5 separate regions of the Homo sapiens genome follow, and all the other regions are reported to be linked to region 1. Evidence: microRNA targets listed by miRTarBase, many of them from high-throughput screens and not tested one by one. Region 1 holds a microRNA gene; each other region holds the end of a gene's coding sequence.
What was found. Region 1 holds the annotated microRNA hsa-miR-4447 (GGUGGGGGCUGUUGUUU, at 2,714-2,730, opposite strand). A microRNA usually pairs through its seed, bases 2 to 8, with sites in the 3' UTR of a target mRNA and lowers its output. Matches are read on the target gene's strand: a 7mer-m8 pairs with bases 2 to 8, a 7mer-A1 pairs with bases 2 to 7 and ends in A, and an 8mer does both.

Region 1 (4,117 bases):
GCAAAATCCCTTTTGCAATATAAGATAAGATATTCACAGGTTCCAGGGACTAGGTTGTTGACATCTTCAGAGGTGGAGAAGGATATTATTCAGTCAAGCACACCAGGCAAGGCATTCTATACCAATCAGTTATTTGCCAGGTGACTTCAGTTACATGAGGGAGGTCAGTTGAGCCCAGTTGATTATTACTGCTCAATTAAACCCAAGCTAAATTACCAACGGGCAAAATATAGAGCTAAAATATGATTTCAGTTTTATGCTACTAAGTTTTGGAATGGTTTGTTATGCAGCAAAAGCTAACTGCTACAGGTAAAAAAAAAAATCAATTTTCAGAATTTCTATTTGAGAAAAAAGTAGGGTTATCCAGGTGGCCAAATTGGCAGGTAAAATGAGATTTCGGCTTGAGCTAGAAATTTAAGGTGAAATAAATGAACCTTGAATTAATAAGCAAAAAGCTTGAATTTGATTCCTTAAATACAAGTTCACATTAGTAGCCCTACACTTACCACCACAGGAGAAGTCAAGAACATGGGACTTTGAGATTCTCCTATTCCTCAGCATTTAATAATACTTTCTCTATCATAAAAGGGTGAGGCTGTACTTTCAGAAGAATGCATTGCTTCAAGATAGAGATTCTAGTTTCAGCCACTCTCTTCCAACTCAGAGCCTTATCTATAGGAGTTGTGATGATACAGTGAGAAACAGCATATGAAGAATTTATAATAGAGCCAGGCACAGAGTAAAACCATCAGCGAGTGTTCACTGTTGCTGTTATTATTATCTCTTCACAGGGCTTGTACACAGTTGATGGCTCATCATTACCCAAGAATCTACAGGCTACTGCTGCATAAGCCTTTGGAGTATCAGGTGTACATGCCCATGATAGCACTACCTTCTTTGACTTTTTAAAACTAATGGTCTCTTTGTTTCCTATTTGCTGTAGGAGCTTCCCTGTATTGTGCTAATTCTGCAAAGAATAGGAAAGTTGAAAAAGAAATGAACTAGGCTTCAAATCTTAGATGTGCTGAAAATGAGCTTTGTAATGTTAAACAAGTCAACCTCACTGTGTCTCTTTCTATGGATTCCAATGTTTGTGTGTTCTGCTTCACAGAGTAATTGTAAGGATCAAATGAATCAGTTAACCAATCAAGCCGAATAAATTGAGCACTAACGATGGCTTTAGCAGTGTGCTGGTTATTCTCAAAACTTAGATGTAAGTTGTTGCCAGACCCATCTTCAGAAGCTATACCTTTGCTTGTGCACACACTAATGAACTTGTACTAGTCATGATGTTCTTGAGCTAGTAATAATGCTCTAGCAAAAATAAAACGTACTTTCCACATTCTGAGGACATAATCCAAAGTAGCCTGCAATAAACACAGGCTAAACACTTTTTTAAAGATTTGCTTTTAATATTCAAAATTCCCTCAGAAGCATGATAAACAGAACACACATTTATAACTTTTCCTTCTGAAAATTTACAAAAATTAGAGTAAAGAAGTTAAAAGAAAAAAAAAAATCCTTCAATGCCTAAAGACAAAGAGAACTATAAACCAAAAATAAAATTCTAAGTCTCCTCAATCATCTAAATGGACCCCTCCTCTCGTCAAGGGCATTCCAGAGTTAACGTGAAAAACTAATACAGGCCATGATGGAAGAGGGGGTCAGACATGCCTCATTATATCCTCCTCCCTTTTGGAATTCAGGAAAAGCCAATCAGCATTAACATCAACACAGACTTTAAATGTGATAAGAAACATTTACATTCTTTTCTCTCTGAAGCCTGCTACTTAGAGGCTTCATCTGCATGATAAAACCTTGGTCTCCACAACCCCTTATTCTAGCCCAGCCATTCCTTTCTATTTATAATAGCTCTTTCAGCAAATTACCAATCAGAATATCTTTGAATCCAGCTATGATTTGGAATCCCCATCTCTACCTCACCCCCACTTCCAGCTGTCTCCACTCTTCCAGATTGAACCAATGTAAATCTCACATAGATTGCTTGATGTATTATGTCTCCTTAAAACGTATAAAGGCAAGGTGTACGTCAACCACCTTGGGCACATGTCAGCACCTCCTGAGGCTGTGTCATGGGCGTGTCCTTAACCTTGGCAAAGTAAACTTTCTAAATTGATTGAGACCTGTCTCAGATACTTTTTGGTTCACAGAAAAAACAAGAGACCAAATAACTGCAGTTAAGATGCATCAAGAAAATTTTGGAAGCTGGAAGCAGACAGACAATTCCTAACTGAGTTTAAAGAGAAAAGAAGAGTAAAATTATTCATTATAGAAACGAAGAAACCAGTTGATTTCCACCACAGAATTCAGGAAAGCTTCTGGACTTATAGACAACAGATACATCTAAAGATTCAATGGTGATAAAGATGTAAAGATTGGTTGAAAGCTGGTATGTGGTTAGAATCCTGCATCAACTCCTGCATAGTATGATAACTGCACTCCTCTTCTGGTCTCCCTCATACACAAATAGACACATGCCAGAAGAGGACAAGCCTCTTATTCAACATTGGAGAGATTGAATAACAGGGATTACTTTAGAACAGTAGGTCTCAACCATGTTCAATTTTGCTTCCCAAGGGATATTTGGCAATATGCCATGAAGACATTTTTGGTTGTCCCAACTTGTGGTGGGGTGTTTCTGGCATCTAGTGGGTAGAAGTCCAAGAAGGATTCTTCTAACATCCTACAATGCAAACAACAGCCCCCACCACAAACAATTATCTGACCCCAAGTATCAGTAGTGCAAATGATGAGAAACCATGCTCTAGAACACCAGAAAAAGCTGAGGATGGGAATGAAATATTAAAATCAGATGAATAAAATGAATATTACACACCGAACTGTGAGATCTGCATCTTGAATTATGAGGTCTTCCCCTTCCCTTTATTCACCTAGTTGTATCTCTGAGAAACCCAATCATTTGCCTTATATATTCCAGGCAATAGATCTGAGGCTTCCTTTTTGAGGGAAATCACTGTTTAAAAGAAAAGACCTGTGGATGCCCATAGCAGGGAGGTCTCTCTCCAGCTGACCACTCTACAGTGAAGCCTGCCATGCTAAGCCATCTCCAGTCAGAATTGTAGAATTGTGATAACTTGTTCCTAAATATAAATGCATAGCAAAGGATTAGCAGATATTAAGGAAGGCTTATAACATGAAAGTTATACCCCTGATATGGTTTGAGTTTGAGTACCTGCCCAATTCTCATGTGAAATTGTAATCTCCAGTATTGGAGGAGGGGGTCTAGTAGGAGGTGATTGGATCATGGGGCCGTTTCTAACGGCTTAGCACTATTTCCCTAGAGGTGTCTTCTGATAGAGTTCTCCCCAGACCTGCTTGTTAAAACGTCTGTAGCACCTCCCCACTATCTTCTTCCTCCTGCTGGCCACATAAGATGTGCTTGCTTCCCCTTTGCCTTCCACCATGATTGTAAGTTTCCTGAGGCCTCCCCAGAAGCAGAAGTCTGTACAGCCTGTAGAGCCATGAGCCAATTAAACCTCTTTTCTTTATAAATTACCCAGTTTCAGGTATGTCTTTATAGAAGTGTGAGAAGAGACTAACACAATACCCAAACAGAGAGACCAAAAAAAAAAAAAAAAAAAGAAAAAAAAGAGGAGAGAGAAACTCAAAATAACCATAGATAATATAAATGAAATTTCTTAGGAAGATTAACTAAAAAATCATGAGGTTTTTAATAACTGCCGTAAATATTCACCAGGGCCTACTTTTGTAGCTACTACTTTTTTCTTGTTATTTCCTACATAAATATTGTTTATATTAATTTATATCTCATTCTACAGAGAATTTCATCCAAGTATTTTGTACAAGTAATTAGAGAAATATGTATGCAATATAGACAGGCACAAAAGGAAAATCAGTACAAAAAGAAAATAAAAATACCATGTTAACCAAGTCAACAGAGAAGTTATAATTTAACTTCAAATTGACTTCAGACATTCTATAATTTCTTCAATAATTTGTTAGAAATGAATGAAAAAGGGAGGTTGTGAATAACTGTAACATGGAATTTCTCCTCTATCCTTTCTCATTACATTAGCTTTTTAAAAAAACCAGAAATCTGAATTTTTATAGCTTG
Region 2 (4,117 bases), not on the chromosome of region 1:
CCATGCCCAGCTAATTTTGTAATTTTTGTAGAGGAGGGGTCTCGCTCTGTGGCTCAGGCCTGTCTCGAACTCCTGAGGTTGCCCAGGCCTGTCTCGAACTCCTGAGCTCAAGCGATTCTCCTGCCTCGGCCTCCCAAAGTGCTGAGATTACAGGCGTGAACCACTGTGCCCGGCATGGTGGATGTCCTTGACTGTTTCCTTTGCTGACCTCCCTCCAGGGAGGGCAGGACTGTGTCTGACCTCAGGGGCATTTGCTGGGGTCTGGGGTGGTCCTCTGTGTTCAGCAGGTGGAGGCTTTGGGAGTCACAGGCCACTACCTCCTTTGCAGGGGACCGGCTTCGGCAGACAGAAAACCGCGCCACGCGCTGCAAGGTGGAACGGCTGCAGCTGCTTCTGCAGCAGAAACGGCTCCGTAGAAAGGCCCGGCGGGACGCGCGGGGTCCGTACCACTGGTCACCCAGCCGCAAGGCCGGCCGCAGCGACAGCAGTAGCAGCGGGGGCGGCGGCAGCCCCAGCGAGGCCTCCGGCTTGGGCCTCGACTTCGAGGACTCCGTGTGGAAGCCAGAAGTCAACCCTGACATCAAGTCAGAGTTCGTGGTGGCTTAGGATCTTCGGATCGGCCACCCTCGCCCCTCGCACCCCAGCCCAGGGCGGCGGGGACTCCGAGAGCCCCGGAGAGAACGTGGCCCAGCCCTGGAGGGCAGGCGGCCACTCCCCCAGCCAGAAGTCTTTTTTTCTTTTCTTCTTTTTTATTATTTTTTTCTTTTTTTAAAAAGTTCTGACCGTGGTTTCCTGGACTCTTCATGGGCTTTGCTTCCTACCTCCTTCACCCTTCACTCCTGCCCTCCTCTTCCTCCTCCTCCTCCTCCTCCGTCTGTCTCCTTTCACCTCTGCGCCAGGTCGGTCCTCCCTGCCAACCTTCCCCAGCTCCAATATGTAGCAGTCTCTCTGGATGGCGGAGAGTGAAGGAGACGGAGAAACGCGCCCCATCCCTTCCGCCGCCTCCTTTCCCCCCCGACCCTATTCAGGTTTTAAGTCAAAAATGTCGATATGTCATTATGCACTTTACAGATGAGGGGAGGGGCCGCAGTGCGCAGAACCCACCCCACCCCCCAGTGCAGACTTCGGGGTCTCCACCCCAGGCCAGCAGCGCCCACTGGGCTACAGCAAGCCAACAGGTCACAGAAGCCAACGAGGGGACTGTTTCTCTTCCACTCCTATCCTCTTTTCTTGATCTTTTTTTTGCATTTTCCTTCATTTCTTTAACAAGGAGAGCAAAGCTGTTTTAGCAGAGGCTGGGGCTGAGGTCCCCATGGGGTTTGGGTGCAGGGGCATGGCACCCTTTCCTGTCGGGAAGGGAGAGGGGAACTACCCCCCCAGCCTGCCCTCCGCCCCGCCCCAGCCGGCGGACTGTGCTGTTTCCTCCGCCCCCACTCCCGTGTTTTCTGACCTCCTGCCTGAGTTTGGGGTATTTATAGACTATTAATTTTCTGACTGAGCCAATAGTGGTTGGGGAACTCTTGAAAAAGGGGAGAGAATGGCTGGGTGCTGGGGAGTTCCCCCCTCCGAGCCCTCCTTCCCGGCCCAACCTGAGGGATGTGGATTTGGGACTGTCTGGGGGCCCCTCCTGCAGCGAGGATGGGAGGGGGTGCTGAGCTGTGAATCCCCTGGGCAGGGGGCGACAACTCCGTGTAGCATTAACCCCCGTGGCGGGGTCCGCTGCTGGTCTAATTTGGACCCCCTGCCTCTCAGTGCCCCTGCCCTAGGGGTGTCTGTCTCCAGAGGGGAGGGACAAATCCCCTACTGGGGCCATTTCAATGGGGTAGTTTTTGGATTTTTTTCCCCACTCACTTTTTATTTTTTAATGATAATGGAGATGTCTGGACCCTTCCTCACCCCACCTGTCGGTCTTGTCCTGGCTCTGCCTGTCCCCCACCGTTGTTCTCGTAGGTGAACCCCAGGTCCTCAACTCCCCCCCTTTATGTGTTGAAAGTTAATGGTTTCAGATGTGAACATCACGTGTTATAACTGTAGCGCTGTAAATTTTTTTGTGGGAGGGTGGGCAGGGAGGGGTCCCAGAGGGTAGAGCTCAAGGATTTTGGGTTTTGTTTTGTTTTCATTTTTCCAAAAAAAAAAGAAAAAAAAATAGAAAAAAAAGGAGTAAAAGGGGCGGGTTTGTTTTTTGAAGAACTGTCTTGGATACCTATTTAAATGTGTGTTCTGTTTTGTTTTTTAACGATTTTTAAATAACGTCTGTGCCTCCACTGGTTGAGGGTGGAACCTCCAGGCAGGAACCGGCTCGCCACCCTCTGCCCGGTAAGGGCTGCCCAAGAAAGCATTACCCGCCCTCGGGGGGTCGGGCTGTGGGGGTCCCGGCACCTGGCGTGAGTTTCATGTATGAAAACATAAAATTGAAAAAAAAAAAAAAACCTACACGAGCACCGTGATTTCAAGTAATAAACAGAAAATGAAACACACATTGACTCCCGCCTGCTCGCCTAGTGGGGGGATCTGGCCTTGGTTGGGAGGGTTCCTGGGGTGGGATGTCAGCTCAGGGAGTCAGAGGGACTGACCTGGGTCCCAAGGCCCCGAAGAGGGGGTGGGGCAGGGGTCAGGGCCCTGAGAATTTCCCACGCTCCTTCCCCGGCTGCCGGGTGGGCAGGAAGCAGCCAGGGTGGGAGGGAGGAGCCCAGCCACTTCCTGGTACCCAAGGCCGGAAGTCCCTTAGGGTGTGGGGCGAGGGCCTGCCTGCCTGCTTCGTGGCCTGGGCAGGACCCTGGCCCCCTCAGGACCTGCCAGTATGGGGGAGACGCGACCACCAGCTCTCCCCAGCCACAGGAGTCGGGGACTCCCACTCTGCCACACCCACCTGCTCCCCTTCCTGGAGTCTCACATCTGTGTGGCTTGCTGCAGGGAGATCACCAGGCCGACTGGGAGGACCTAGGACTCCGCAGGGTACCTTGGGCTGGCAGGTGATACAGGCCTGGCTTGACCCAGCCCTGGGGGGCCTCTCTGGCCACACCTCCTGACATTCCAGCCCTTCCCAGACCTGGCCTTCAGCTCCAAACCTCCCGGCCTTTGCCCCCTGTCTAGGAACACCCCTGGTCCGGCTGTCCCTTGCTGTCTGGGAACTTCCCCAGCCTGCGCCTTCCACCCCTGTCCACCCCGTCCCGCAGACCCCACCCTTCCCTCTCTCTGTCCCTAGCCTGGAGCTCCCCGTGAGCCTCACCAGGACTGAGTCCTCTCTGGGGTCCCACCTCCACCCATGTCCGGGCTGGGCAGAGATGAGGCAATAACACTATTTCATGTCTTTTTTTAAATTTTGTAACCTGTATTTCCTCAGGTAACAAGAGTTGCCTATGAGAAGTAATTGGGCTCCCATTTTATAGATGGGAGAACAGAGGCCCAAAGAGGAACATCACTTGGCCCAGAGGATTTGGGGTGTTTGTTCAATGATGTGACCTCCACCCCTTATCCCATCTCTAGGGGCCCCAGTACCGGGAGCCCCCAGGGGAAGGGGCACAGGTTCAGAGAGTGGCCTGGGAGCACCTTCCTGAGACCCCTCTGCCCCTCCCAACGCCCAGTCAACCCCAAATCATCGCACGCCCACGGCAGGAAGGCGGATGCCCAGTCAGGCGGCACCCACCCCCCGCCCCGTCCCTGGTGCGGATGTCCCCTCGGGGCTCAGGGTGGGGGTGCGGGTCACCGACGCCAGGCCTGGGGTCAAGGCGAGGGCCCCAGGGCGCCACCGCCCCCTCGCTGGGCGGGGTGGGAAGGAGGAAGGAGGATGTTGTCTGAAGCACCTGCTGAATCACAGGGGCTGTGTCTGTAGCCTGCAGGGTGGGGGGCGCGTCCCCTGCACTCCAGGACCCGCCCCTCGGGATGCCGACCCCCACCCCAGACTGGGGATCCCAGGGGTCAAGGCTGTGCCCTGGGGGCGTGGGGTGGGGTATGGAGCTCCAGGCTCAGAGCCCTGGCCTGGTAGGGTCAGCCCAACCAGGGGTGCAGCGGGCGGAGGGGCGGCAGGCGGAGGCCAAGTGTGCGTAGGGAAGCACGGAGAGGTAAACTGAGGCACAAAGAGGGCAGGGACCGCTGGGATCTCGCGGGGCGGGGTCGG
Region 3 (4,117 bases), not on the chromosome of region 1:
AGGCCCCAGTGCAGGTCCTGTGCAAGGACTGCAGCGGCTTCTGGAACAGGCGAAGAGCCCTGGGGAGCTGCTGCGCTGGCTGGGCCAGAACCCCAGCAAGGTGCGCGCCCACCACTACTCGGTGGCGCTTCGTCGTCTGGGCCAGCTCTTGGGGTCTCGGCCACGGCCCCCTCCTGTGGAGCAGGTCACACTGCAGGACTTGAGTCAGCTCATCATCCGAAACTGCCCCTCCTTTGACATTCACACCATCCACGTGTGTCTGCACCTTGCAGTCTTACTTGGTGAGGAGGGGCTTGAGGTGGGCGCCTGGGGGGCTAGGTGTTAATGAAGAATAGGGAGAACAGTAGAGGACCACGGACAGAGACCCAGCCTCTCAGGCGTTTGCCCAGGAACGCTTGCTCCTGCTCCCGTCCTATGTCTGCGGCAGACATCATGAGTCGAACGCACTCCTTCCGGCCTCGCTAGGGTGCCACCCCAGATTCCTGCTAATAGAGTGCCCTAGGAAGCCACCATAATTTGTCACAATTGGTATGAGATGAAAGCCTATTTGCCATCTTTGTATGTACTCCCTACAAACCGTTTCGATACCTCATAGCCACATGATACTTTACATGTCTCTAGTGTTTGCACTTAAACTCTAGCACACCTTCCCGCTCAGGAAACGGGAGAGGAGAAAGGTGGAGAATTCACCAAGTAACCCCATGATAAGAACAGCAGCACAGCTCTGTTACCAGGCTGCCTTTTACCTCTCCCCCTCAGGCTTTCCATCTGATGGTCCCCTGGTGTGTGCCCTGGAACAGGAGCGAAGGCTCCGCCTCCCTCCGAAGCCACCTCCCCCTTTGCAGCCCCTTCTCCGAGGTGGGCAAGGGTTGGAAGCTGCTCTAAGCTGCCCCCGTTTTCTGCGGTATCCACGGCAGCATCTGATCAGCAGCCTGGCAGGTGCTGGAGGGGGTTAAAATCAGATGGGGGTGGGGAGGGCTGACAGGAGGAGGAAGGTGGGCTCAGTTGGCTGGGCTGAGGTGGAATTGAGCCAGCCGGAGGTCCGGCTGAGGCCCAGCGTGACAGGCTGCTCTTCACAGAGGCAAGGCCAGAGGAACTGACTCCCCACGTGATGGTGCTCCTGGCCCAGCACCTGGCCCGGCACCGGTTGCGGGAGCCCCAGCTTCTGGAAGCCATTGCCCACTTCCTGGTGGTTCAGGAAACGCAACTCAGCAGCAAGGTGGGCTTGCCACCCACCCTCCAGTGCATCTCTGTCATTCTCAGGGACCTTGTCAGGCCCAGCGCCTCGTGCAGCTCGGCTATCCTTTTCCTGAAGCAGACACACCCTCTCTGTCCCCTGGGACCTGCATCTTTTCTACACCCTTTCTGTGGCTTGCCCACCTCCTGTCAGCAGCATGCATTCCTGGAAATCTGCAGTTTCCCAAAGCACTCTTAGCAGCATCCTAGCTCCACCCATCCCTCTCGAAGTCTTCAGGGCCAGACCCCACAGCGATGTCCCCTCTGCCTGTCTGGTGATTAGTCACGTGCAGCTCGTGACTGCTTTGCTGTTGAACTGTGAGGCCGGAGGGACTGTCCTGTCTTTACAGCAGTGTTGTAAACCTGAGGGCTAAGCCTCTCTAAGGCTTAGCTTGTAAAAGATGACTGCAGAAATACTTGACACTGGGTAATGAACTGCTCTTCCTCCACAGGTGGTACAGAAGTTGGTCCTGCCCTTTGGGCGACTGAACTACCTGCCCCTGGAACAGCAGTTTATGCCCTGCCTTGAGAGGATCCTGGCTCGGGAAGCAGGGGTGGCACCCCTGGCTACAGTCAACATCTTGATGTCACTGTGCCAACTGCGGTGCCTGCCCTTCAGAGCCCTGCACTTTGTTTTTTCCCCTGGCTTCATCAACTACATCAGTGGTACGCAGCCAGGATGGCTGGCTGGGCCCCTGAGGGCTGGAGAGGCAGGGGAGCAGGGTGGCCTGCAGCCCAGAGCCCCAGTCCCCGCCTCCCCACAGGCACCCCTCATGCTCTGATTGTGCGTCGCTACCTCTCCCTGCTGGACACGGCCGTGGAGCTGGAGCTCCCAGGATACCGGGGTCCCCGCCTTCCCCGAAGGCAGCAAGTGCCCATCTTTCCCCAGCCTCTCATCACCGACCGTGCCCGCTGCAAGTACAGGTGGATGGGGCAGCCTGGGGCAAGGGGAGGGGCCAGCCTGGGACCAGCAGAGTGGAAAAGCCAGAGGGACCATGAAGCGCCAAAGCTAAGGAGCTCTCGGCCACCATAAAACTGGGCCCTGAAGCAGCAGAGGGCTTTGCCCAGGGTGGTGGCACTAGACTGGGACAGATTAGGATGAGGTGCCGGGCCCTTCCTGCTACTGGTGTCCTTTCTCCTCAGTCACAAGGACATAGTAGCTGAGGGGTTGCGCCAGCTGCTGGGGGAGGAGAAATACCGCCAGGACCTGACTGTGCCTCCAGGCTACTGCACAGGTGAGCAAGGGGCAGGCGGCAGGCCCGGGGAGACGGAGCCCTGGCTAAGGCCGCCGGCCCTGCTCCCCTCCAGACTTCCTGCTGTGCGCCAGCAGCTCTGGTGCTGTGCTTCCCGTGAGGACCCAGGACCCCTTCCTGCCATACCCACCAAGGTCCTGCCCACAGGGCCAGGCTGCCTCTAGCGCCACTACTCGAGACCCTGCCCAGAGGTAAAGGAGGCAGGGTGGGGGAGCCCTGGCCACCTTGCCCGCCATGCCCTGAGCCACGTCCCTCCCCCTGCAGGGTGGTGCTGGTGTTGCGGGAACGCTGGCATTTCTGCCGGGACGGCCGGGTGCTGCTGGGCTCGAGGGCCCTGAGGGAGCGGCACCTAGGCCTGATGGGCTACCAGCTCCTGCCGGTGAGTGGCCCTGGCCTGGCCCGTGGCGCATCCTCACTCCCAGCCTGCGGGTAACCTGCCGCCCTCTCCTCTCCCCACAGCTACCCTTCGAGGAACTGGAGTCCCAGAGAGGCCTGCCCCAGCTCAAGAGCTACCTGAGGCAGAAGCTCCAGGCCCTGGGCCTGCGCTGGGGGCCTGAAGGGGGCTGAGGGGTTGATGTGGGGTTCAGGATGGCCCCCCCATGGGGGGTGGATGATTTGCACTTTGGTTCCCTGTGTTTTGATTTCTCATTAAAGTTCCTTTCCTTCCCCGTTGTGAATCTCAGTTTTGGGACGGGGAGCAGAGCTGAGTCCCCCGCCTCTTCCATTCATGCCCCGCCCCCCATACAAAGACAAAAGGCCACAGATAGGTGGGGGCCAAAGCACTTTACTGCAGGGGCAGTGGGGGAGGAGAAGACTTTAAATTATTCACTTAAATAAAAAGGAGGGAGGGGCATGGGAGGGGGAACCCCATCCCACCAGCCTGTCCCCTCGTCCATCGGTCCCTCGGCTGTCCCTCGGTGGCGGCTACACAGGCATGGGCATCTCATTGTACTCGTCCACACCCTCCCGCTCATCAAACACCGGCTCTGCCTCGTTAGCATCCAGCTGTGTGTGGGGAGGTGGCGGTCAAGAAGGGAAGTGGGGGGGCCTTTCCAGATCCACAGGGAGGCAAGAGGAACCGGGGGAGGCAGACGGGAGGGCTTACACATTTCATCTCTCGGTCGGTGAAGATACGGGTGAGCACCACCATGCGGAGCGGCACTGTGAGGATGAGGATGAAGGGGAAGGCCAGGGAGGCAGCTGTGGACATGACGGCCCAGAGCAGGGCCAGGCAGAGCAGCTGCAGGGCCGTGAACAGGTGCATACGGAGGGTCCGGACCTGGGGGGCGGAGACAGGTGAGCCCAGCTTCCTCCCTAGCCTGCTGCTGGGAAGAGCCTCTCTCTTCTTCGGAGGCGGGGATGGAAGAACATTCCTAGGTGCCAGAGCTGGGTTGGTACAGAGAGGAGGTGGGGGCTGGCTGAACTGGGCAGATGGGAGGGGGCAGCTGGAGAGTGACCCAAGTAGACCAGGATGGCCAGAGGCACACCCCTTCCGGTGGGGAGCTGGGGGGCTCACCTTCTTGACGTAAGTGACATCTGGGTGGTGTTTGGGCGGCATGAGCAGCAGATGCAGCCGCTCATAGAACTGGATCCCGTTAAGGGAGGTGACTCCCATGTACAGGAAAATT
Region 4 (4,117 bases), not on the chromosome of region 1:
GAAGTTCCTAATAACAACTAGCTAAATATAACATATGACACTTACTAAATTTAGAGACACTGAGATTGTGTTTATTCTTTACATTAATACCCTTCTTTTGAAAATTAAAATTAACCCTTGTTTACTGAAAGCCCTCAAGTAACTTGTTACAGACTTTATGTTTTTATAAAATGAGCTTGTGCAATGTTCTTTATTTTTTTGTCTGTTTAGGGATGGATCTTTACATGTGACATGCACAGATCAAGAAACTGGAAAATGTGAAGCAATCTCTATTGAGATAGCATCTTAGTGTTTTAGAGAAATCAAGAATTTTTAAAAACAAGAATATCAACATTTGGTTTTGTGTATAAGTGGTGTTTGTATTAAAATACTTTTTCAATGAACTGTATAAACTATGTTTTATTAAACTACAATATATCAGTAAGTGTTGCAACCCTTTGTTTTTGACGTACAGTAACCTCTTATTACTGGGAAATATAAGGAAGTTTTTTTTTTTTTTTATCATGAAGCTGTTTAGAATTAAACTGAGTTGGTTAAAGAATTTTCTATAACATTTAATTTGTAAAAGTCTTCTATTGATTCTTGTTAGATAACCAAGAGAACAATTAAAAGTCATTGACATTAATTGAAAAAAATTTCAGGACCACATAGAAAGTAAGATGCCTTTTTTTGTTGGTTTTTGTTTTTAGAGACAGGATTTTGCACTGCCACCGAGGCTCAAGTGCAGTGGTGGGATCATATCTCACAGCAGCCTCGAACTGCTGGGCTCAAGCAGTCTTCCTGCCTTAGCCTCCCTTGTAGCCGGGACTACAGATGTGCACCATCACACCTGGCAATTTTTTTTTTTTTTTTTTTTTTTTTGGAGAGACGGGTCTTGCTATGTTGCCCAGGATGGTCCCAAACTGCTGGTCTCAAGCAGTCCTCCCGCCTTAGCCCCACAAAGTGCTGGGATTACAGGCATAAGCGACAGCCATTTTTTAAGTAAACTGATAAACTCAACAACTAGGAGAGGGGCTTTTACTTTTTACAGTTTTGTTTAGTTTATTTCTTCCAACAAACATGTTTTTCTTTTGAAATTAAAAGATCTCTTTAGGGCTGGGCACGGTGGCTTACACCTGTAATTCCAGCACTTTGGGAGGCAGAGATGGGAGGATCACTTGAGGCTAGGAGTTCCAGACCAGCCTGGCCAACGTGGTGAAACCCCATCTCTACTAAAAATACAAAAAATTAGTTGGGCGTGGTGGTGTGCGCCTGTAGTCTTAGCAACTCCTGAGACTGAATCCCTTGATCCCAGGAGGCAGAGGTTGCAGTGAGCCGAGATCACGCCACTGCACTGCAGCCTGGGTGACAGAGTGATACTCCATCTCAAAAAAAGAAAAAAAAAATCTCTTTAGTTTGAAGAGAAGGCTAGCCACATTCTGTTTACCAGAGAATATTCACTAGAGCCCTGAGATCCTCAGTGGGTTCCAGTGAAAACTTATTCATGTTGGCTGCTATGGAGTTAGTTGGTAGTACCCTTCTAAAAGTTTTTAAAGATCCAGAAACCAAACTTAAATTTTTTCATCATTATTTTGCATCAAATTATTGACAGAACCATGAAGAGAATTCAGATATGATTTTAAGTCCACAGAGTCTTTAAATACAGAAGCAGCTTTAAAGGTGTACTCTTTGTCCTAAGTTATTAGTTATTTCTTAGGATCTTTTTCCAAAGTCATAGAAAATTTGAAATAAAAGTGATTTTGGTATAAGCAATTCAGTGGCTTCAGAACACAGGAAAACACCAACTGAACTAGTTCTACTGCTAGGTCTACATGCTTTCAATTATGCTTTGAAAAACTTTTAGGATTTTATTTTGTGGTTATTGTTAGCTTTTAAAATAGATCTGGGGTGCCAAACTATGGCCAGTGAGTCAGATCTATCTCACCCCTGTTTTCATAGATAAAATTTTATTAGAACACAGTCACACTCTAATTGTATATGGGCTGGCTGTGGCGGTTTTCACATTAGAGTGGCAGAGATGAATAGTTGCACAAAGGCTGTGTGGCCCACAAAGCTTAAAATATTTACTGTCTGGCCTTCTACATAAAAAATTTGACACCTAAAGTACATTATTGAAACTTATAGAATAAAATAACTTCTTCTAAAGTTTTCTGCTATATTTATGTAATGCTTTACTTATTGGCTCCTTTCCCCACTAGATTATTAAGCATTGTGAGAGCAGATACTCTCAGTCTTAGTCACCATTTTGCCTCAGCCCCTACAACAGTACGTGAGCATAGTGGGTGTTCCTAAGTGCTTATCAAATAAATGAATTATGTGGAAGAAAAAATAATGTCATGTTTGTATGCTACAGGACAATGGCCAGTGAGTAGTACATCTGTTGTATATTTTATGGTTTGTTTAGAAACATAAGGAAGGAAAGGAATAGCACTGCTGACTTTATTGGTCAGCTTTGCATGTTTGTTTGGTTGTTTTCCCCTAGACTTATCAAATTTGAAATTGTCATCAATAAGTCCTCTACTGCCTAATGAAATTCTTCCACATTTTTTCGTACCCTCAGGTGATAAGTTTTTTCCTTGTGAATTTTTGAAAGATTTGCTGACAAAATTTTCTAGTGTTTTTTTATTTTTCAAGGTGAAAATAGCTTTAAATTTTTTGTTTGTAAGAATGATACATAGTCAATATAAAATTCAAATTCCAAAAGAAAAAAATATAAAACATTCTTTATTCTACCATCCAGAATAGTAACTATAAAGATTTTTGGTGAGTACCTTGATAATCTTTTCATGTACATCCTAGTTATCTTTGTTATATGTATGTCGTAGCAAAGATAATTGGGATGTACATGAGATACATGCAATTTATACTCATGAAATGTAAATATATTTCATGAAGTTTAAATATGTATATATTTAAATGTGGGGAAAGTAGTCAAGTAAGTGAAGTATTACATAAATATGGAAGAAAAGTTTTGAAGAAGTCATTTTATTGTGGAAGTTTCAATAATCTACCTCGGGTCAAGTTTTTTATATAAAAGGCCAGATAGTAAATATATACATATTTAAACTTAAACACTTTTACCACTAAAAGCTTATGTCAAATTATAGTTTTGCCTATTTACATCTGACATTGTCTGAAGAACAGAGCCAAATATAAAAATAGGAAGAAATACCTATGATGTGAAAGTCTTGGAACGTGTCTTAGTTTGGACTGCTATAATAAAGTACCATAGTCTGGGGGGTGGCTTGTAAACATCAGAAATGTATCATAGTTCTGGAGGCTGGAAGTCAGTTCGGGTGCTGGACCAGGCTGGAAGCGGGGCCGGGTTCTGATGAGGGCTCCCTTTTGGGTTGCCAGCTATCCTTATAACCTCACACGGAGGATAGAGGGCGAGAGAGCTCTGAAGGGTCCCTCTTGTAAGGGTGTCAATCCCATGCATGCAGCCTCCACCTTCATGATTTAATCACCTCCCAAAGGCCCCACCTCCCAATATAATCACTTTGGGGGCGAGGATTTCAACACTGGAATTTTTCAGAGATGAAAACGTTCAGTCCTTAACAGGAGGTCACAAAATATTCATCACAAACTGAAAGCTTTTATATGTATAAGAATTCTTAAAAGTATCCTAGCATAAAAGTTCTATGGGAAAAATCACAATATCTAAAATGATAATGAGTGACCATATAATACTGTTATTTGCTTTAATTCATTATCTCATTTTAAAATTTTGATCTCATCACAATTCCACGAGTAGTTGTACTATGTAGAGAGTAATATGGCCTTGGTTATTTCTGTTTTCCAGATAATAGATTCACAGCAGTTAAATAAAGTATCCAAGGTCTCACAGTGAATAAATGGTGGATTTTGAACTAACATTCAGATGCTTATTTTGTAAACTTAATTTTTCTTGACTGCTTACTATTTTAAGCACATTACATGGATTATTTCATTTAAATTCACATTCTTAATCTAGTGTTCATTCTATGATTCTTTGCCTCTCAGAAGAGAACGTTTATTTCAGTAGAAGAGGAGACACTCCAGAAATCATGTGGTCTTTGTGAAAAAAATACTGGGAAAGGGTCATGATTCTCTACTTTTCCCTTGAGGACCCTGGTGT
Region 5 (4,117 bases), not on the chromosome of region 1:
AGTTAATGACTATTGTGAATTAAAATGCATTGGTCATCTTTTATAAGCCTTTTGCTGGACGTATACACTCATTTTTCTTGGATATATGTTAGGTTGGACCACTAGAAGTTGCCTTTTTGTTGTTTTGGGAGACAGTCTTGTTACCTAGGCTGGAGTGCAAGGGTGCGATCTCGGCTCACCACCACCTCCACCTCCTGGGTTCAAGCGATTCTCCTGCCTCAGCCTCCCGAGTAGCTGGGATTACAGGCATGCGCCAACACGCCTAGCTAATTTTGTATTTTTAATAGAGATGGGGTTTCTCCACGTTGGTCAGGCTGGTCTCGAACTTCTGACCCCAGGTGATCTGCCCGCCTTGGCCTCCCACAGTACTGGGATTACAGGCGTGAGTCAGTGTGCCCAGCCTAGAAGTTACCATTTTGTTGGTCCAAAATAGTTATTAGTGGTTTCATATAATTCATCCTGTACCTAGAAGTAGAATTGCTGGATCAAAGGGTAGTTGTATGTTCAGCTTTAGAAGATAGGTATTTATAAACATTTTTTTGGTGTGCCCTGCCAGCTGTGTGTGAGAGTTCCATTTTCCCCACATTTTCACCAAATACTTGGTATTGTCAGTCTTTTAAATTTAAGCCATTCTGGCTGTACAGAGCTCATTTATGTACTAATGTTTACATTTTACCTCACAGAAAATAGATGCACAAGCTATTGAAGAATTCTACGGGTTGACATCAGATATCTCAAAGAACTCTGAGTCTGGTTACATCCTTTTCTATCAGTCTCGGGACTGAGAGGGAACCGTGATGAAGAGACACTTTCTGCCTCATTTCTTCTCTGGTTATTTTGGAAAGGATCAAGCACTGATTTTTCAAGAAAAGAGAAATGCAGGAAGCTCAGGGGGCAGTAGCACACTTTGCACACGATAAAGCAAAGACGATGGATTGACAAGCCCTTCCGATCATGGTAGTTGATTTATTTGCTCAGGTATCATGCTGTCTGTACAGTTCCATACAACAAGGAGGTGAAATCAGAGATACCAGCTCCTCTTTTAAAACAGCCTTCCAGTCATTGGCACGCATTTTCTCTTTATTAATTGCACCAATAATGCTTTGAATTCCTTGGGGGTGCAGTAGAAAGAATCGGAATCTGTGCCGTATTGATAAGGAGATGATGTTGAACACACTGCATAAATTTGCCTGGTTCAGTATGTATAGAAGCATATTCAGTGGTCTTTTCAAGAGTAAACCAGAAATACTTTTGGGCCCAACACTTGCAGTTGCCTTCCTGATGTAAAAACTAACATGCTAGATAATCCAGTGTCGGGAAGACAAAGATGTTTTGCTTCTCTGAAGAAGCTTATAATAATATACAGTATATGTATATGTAGGGAGCAATTGGTCAAAAGTGGCTTTTTGTTTCCCCAAGGGGAAAGACTGGCTTTGTAATTATAATTTTTTCCTTATTTATTTTACTTAAAACTGGTAGAGTCTAAGTATTATATGAAGTGCCCATGATTCTGTCAGTAAATTTGAACATATTTTTATTAGTTAATGTCAGTTTAAGTTGTCCTTTTGTTTGTTTCTATTTTTAAGGTGAATTTTAATTTCTATCTGAAATCAGTTAAGATACCTTGAGAAAAACTGCAGTGAGAGGAGATAAATATCCTTTTTCAGGAGGAACTGATATCTCTGGCTAAATATTTGTCCTTTTATTATGGTTTCTAAATCAGTTATTTTCTTCAGCTTTAATTTCATAAAATTAAAAAACTATTTTAAAAATTCCTGTAGTTGTTGGAATAATTAAAAATTCTGGTGCAGTGGTGGTATACCAATCTTTAGAATTCTTAAGTATTCTAATGTTTCAAGTTGAGATCATGCTTGGGAAAATCATGTCATAGCATTTATGTTATTTTCAGATGCCATTTTTTACCCTGGAAAGAAGTCATAATGTTCATCATAACCCTAGCAGCCTGGATAGTGAGCTAAACAAACCCTTCAAAGATTAAATTTTAATCAAGTAGACCGGGAATACAAAAGACAAGTCCTTCCTTCCCTTCCCCCCACCTTTACAAATCTTACTGGAAGGGTGTTCAGAAATTAAAATCTGTGTTTGCTAAGACTTCATTCTGTTGGGGGTTTTAAGAAGTAATATATGTAACATAAAATATATGTAAACGATTGCAGTTTTTTTGGACGTTTTTCCATGCATCAGTAAGTTGTCTGACAGTAGCCAAATGTAACTTGCAGAAAATTATTGAAAATTATATTCAGAATAATAGCAATCAGGCCTTGGATGTTCTTTATTAAACTCTTTTCAGGCAGTAAATTTAAAAAAAATTGTCATTTTCTAAAGTCCTTTTGCTAAAACTGTTGACTATGGAAAACAACAAAAAGGAATTTTTTAGTCTGCTGCTATTATTAACATTTATTATCTGTATCTTTTGGCTCAGGAAATGACTTCACCTATTTTTTCCATAAGCAGACCTTTAACAGAGTCACTTAATTGGGCTGCTTAAACAGATGTTCTGGGAGAAAATTATAATATTTAGTATTTGTACAAAATATCAAAAAGTATTTTGACAAGTTTCTTTTTAAGATAGTTCCTAAAGCCTTACCCTGGCTAGAGGTGTTTTGTACAAATTATATATAAGCCAGCCTGATCTACCAACATGCCACAGAGAATCACAATCAACAGTGTGGGGAAAGTCAGGGCAGTGGAAGTGGATGCACTCTTTTTATTTTGAAGGCTTAAACCAAATTGTCTTGGAATTAAAGCTGTATTTCTGCAGCTTTCGGTACAGAGAAAAAGAGGAAAGTGAAGCTGTGTCAGTTTTAACATTAGCTATATCAACATGTTTAAGAAAGATAGATGAAGTCATTTGCATAAAGGTACAGCATTGAAATACTATGTTGTGTTTGTTTTTACATTTTTGCATTAAAAAAAAACATGCCGTAAAAGCCAAGTTAAATTTCATATTAAAGCAAGTTCTAGTGTATGTGTTGAGTTCCTGGTAATCACATACTTGTTCACATCTACACCGTACTTCATAGTATGATTTGTCAGGGGAGGGATTGTGGGGTGACAGTTTTACATTTACTTTTTCTTCTTAATGCAGCTGGATCTAAGTAAAATGTTTTGAAGTTTATCAGAAACTAAATGTACTTTTAAAACGTATAGGGTCAGGGTTGGGGGAAAAATACAGGTATAGTAAGTAAGAAAAGTGACCCATGAAGAAAGCATCGTGAGGTTGTATGTTGGTTGACTGTGATTAAAATGCGGGGCTGGTGTAAGTTGTAAGTGGTGGCTGATTGCCGTGTAACTATGTACATGATTGTTGGGATGGCTGTCCCATATTTTGTATATTGGAATAAAAATTTCTATAAATTATTGTAACTAAAAGTAAATATTCTAAATTAAGTCCCACTTCTTAAGTCACATGGCTTCTGTCTTGGAAATTTTACCTTTAAAAGATTATTTAAGACAGGAACCAGGAGGCTTGGGAACAGGGAAAGAGGGAAATGTTGTATTATGTGGGTCTTGGGGCCTCTAACCATCAGTATAGGGTTTTTTCTTTCCTTGATGGCAGTAGAAAGACCTCATTTTCATAACATAACTACTCTTGATACTTTCTTTAAAAACACTTTTTATTAAAGATTCTATCATGAGGTATTTGGCTGGGAGCTGGGAGGCTAAAGCGCTCATGTCCTGGCTCTTCAGTGAATTTAACTGTGTGACCTTGGGCAAGTCACTTAACCTCTCTGTGCTTCAGTCTCCCTGTCTTGTAAAATGGGAGTAATACCTACCTCACAGGGTTGTTGTGGGGATTAATTAGAGATAATGTCTGTAAAGCATTTAAGGTTCTTGAAGAAGGCACTATATAAATACAAAATAATATCTATTAAAGTTGGTTTATTTGTGCCTGTGGGTTTCAAGTGTGTTTTTTCCTTTTTGCCTAAAATGTATTTACAGATTAGAAGTAGACACTTTGGAAACTGTGTTACTGCTTTTGCCCAAGCTCCTACTTCTGTATCCAAAGAGATTTTCCCTAGAACAGAATTGCATGTGTGTAAAACAACATTCTACATGTGCCTGCATTTATTTAGCACATAGTAGCTTGTGTCAC

Region 2: the mRNA of MIDN is a reported target of hsa-miR-4447. Seed matches in the 3' UTR shown: 7mer-m8 at 1,428-1,434 and 7mer-m8 at 1,930-1,936.
Region 3: miRTarBase lists SLC4A2 as a target of hsa-miR-4447. Seed matches in the 3' UTR shown: 7mer-m8 at 3,288-3,294.
Region 4: the mRNA of HSPA14 is a reported target of hsa-miR-4447. The part of its 3' UTR that is shown has no 7-base or 8-base seed match.
Region 5: the mRNA of USP12 is a reported target of hsa-miR-4447. Seed matches in the 3' UTR shown: 7mer-m8 at 2,051-2,057.

The regions. Positions count from the first base shown.
Region 1 is chr3:116,847,576-116,851,692 of GRCh38, forward strand. MIR4447 (microRNA 4447) reads right to left here and starts at 2,792; the gene lies at 2,702-2,792. RefSeq lists enhancers at 1,214-1,848, 1,849-2,484.
Region 2 is chr19:1,256,667-1,260,783 of GRCh38, forward strand. It overlaps MIDN (midnolin), which reads left to right. Exons shown (of 9, transcript NM_001388306.1): 9 at 329-2,477. The coding sequence ends at 606. Among named protein-coding and RNA genes, the nearest start is that of MIDN, 10 kb to the left of the region's middle. RefSeq lists enhancers at 2,325-2,474, 2,895-3,054 and a silencer at 3,495-4,117.
Region 3 is chr7:151,075,664-151,079,780 of GRCh38, reverse strand. It overlaps SLC4A2 (solute carrier family 4 member 2), which reads right to left. Exons shown (of 23, transcript NM_003040.4): 21 at 4,006-4,117; 22 at 3,595-3,768; 23 at 3,258-3,494. The coding sequence ends at 3,414. FASTK (Fas activated serine/threonine kinase) reads left to right here. Exons shown (of 10, transcript NM_006712.5): 2 at 1-281; 3 at 760-939; 4 at 1,080-1,219; 5 at 1,689-1,902; 6 at 2,001-2,160; 7 at 2,380-2,471; 8 at 2,545-2,680; 9 at 2,754-2,868; 10 at 2,949-3,157. The coding sequence ends at 3,056. Among named protein-coding and RNA genes, the nearest start is that of FASTK, 3.1 kb to the left of the region's middle. RefSeq lists enhancers at 1-629, 1,606-2,581, 2,582-3,557, 3,558-4,117 and a silencer at 2,700-2,779.
Region 4 is chr10:14,871,318-14,875,434 of GRCh38, forward strand. HSPA14 (heat shock protein family A (Hsp70) member 14) reads left to right here. Exons shown (of 14, transcript NM_016299.4): 14 at 211-424. The coding sequence ends at 289. It also overlaps a transcript of SUV39H2-DT not described here. Among named protein-coding and RNA genes, the nearest start is that of SUV39H2-DT, 5.3 kb to the right of the region's middle.
Region 5 is chr13:27,065,951-27,070,067 of GRCh38, reverse strand. It overlaps USP12 (ubiquitin specific peptidase 12), which reads left to right. Exons shown (of 9, transcript NM_182488.4): 9 at 684-3,912. The coding sequence ends at 785. Among named protein-coding and RNA genes, the nearest start is that of USP12-AS1, 58 kb to the left of the region's middle.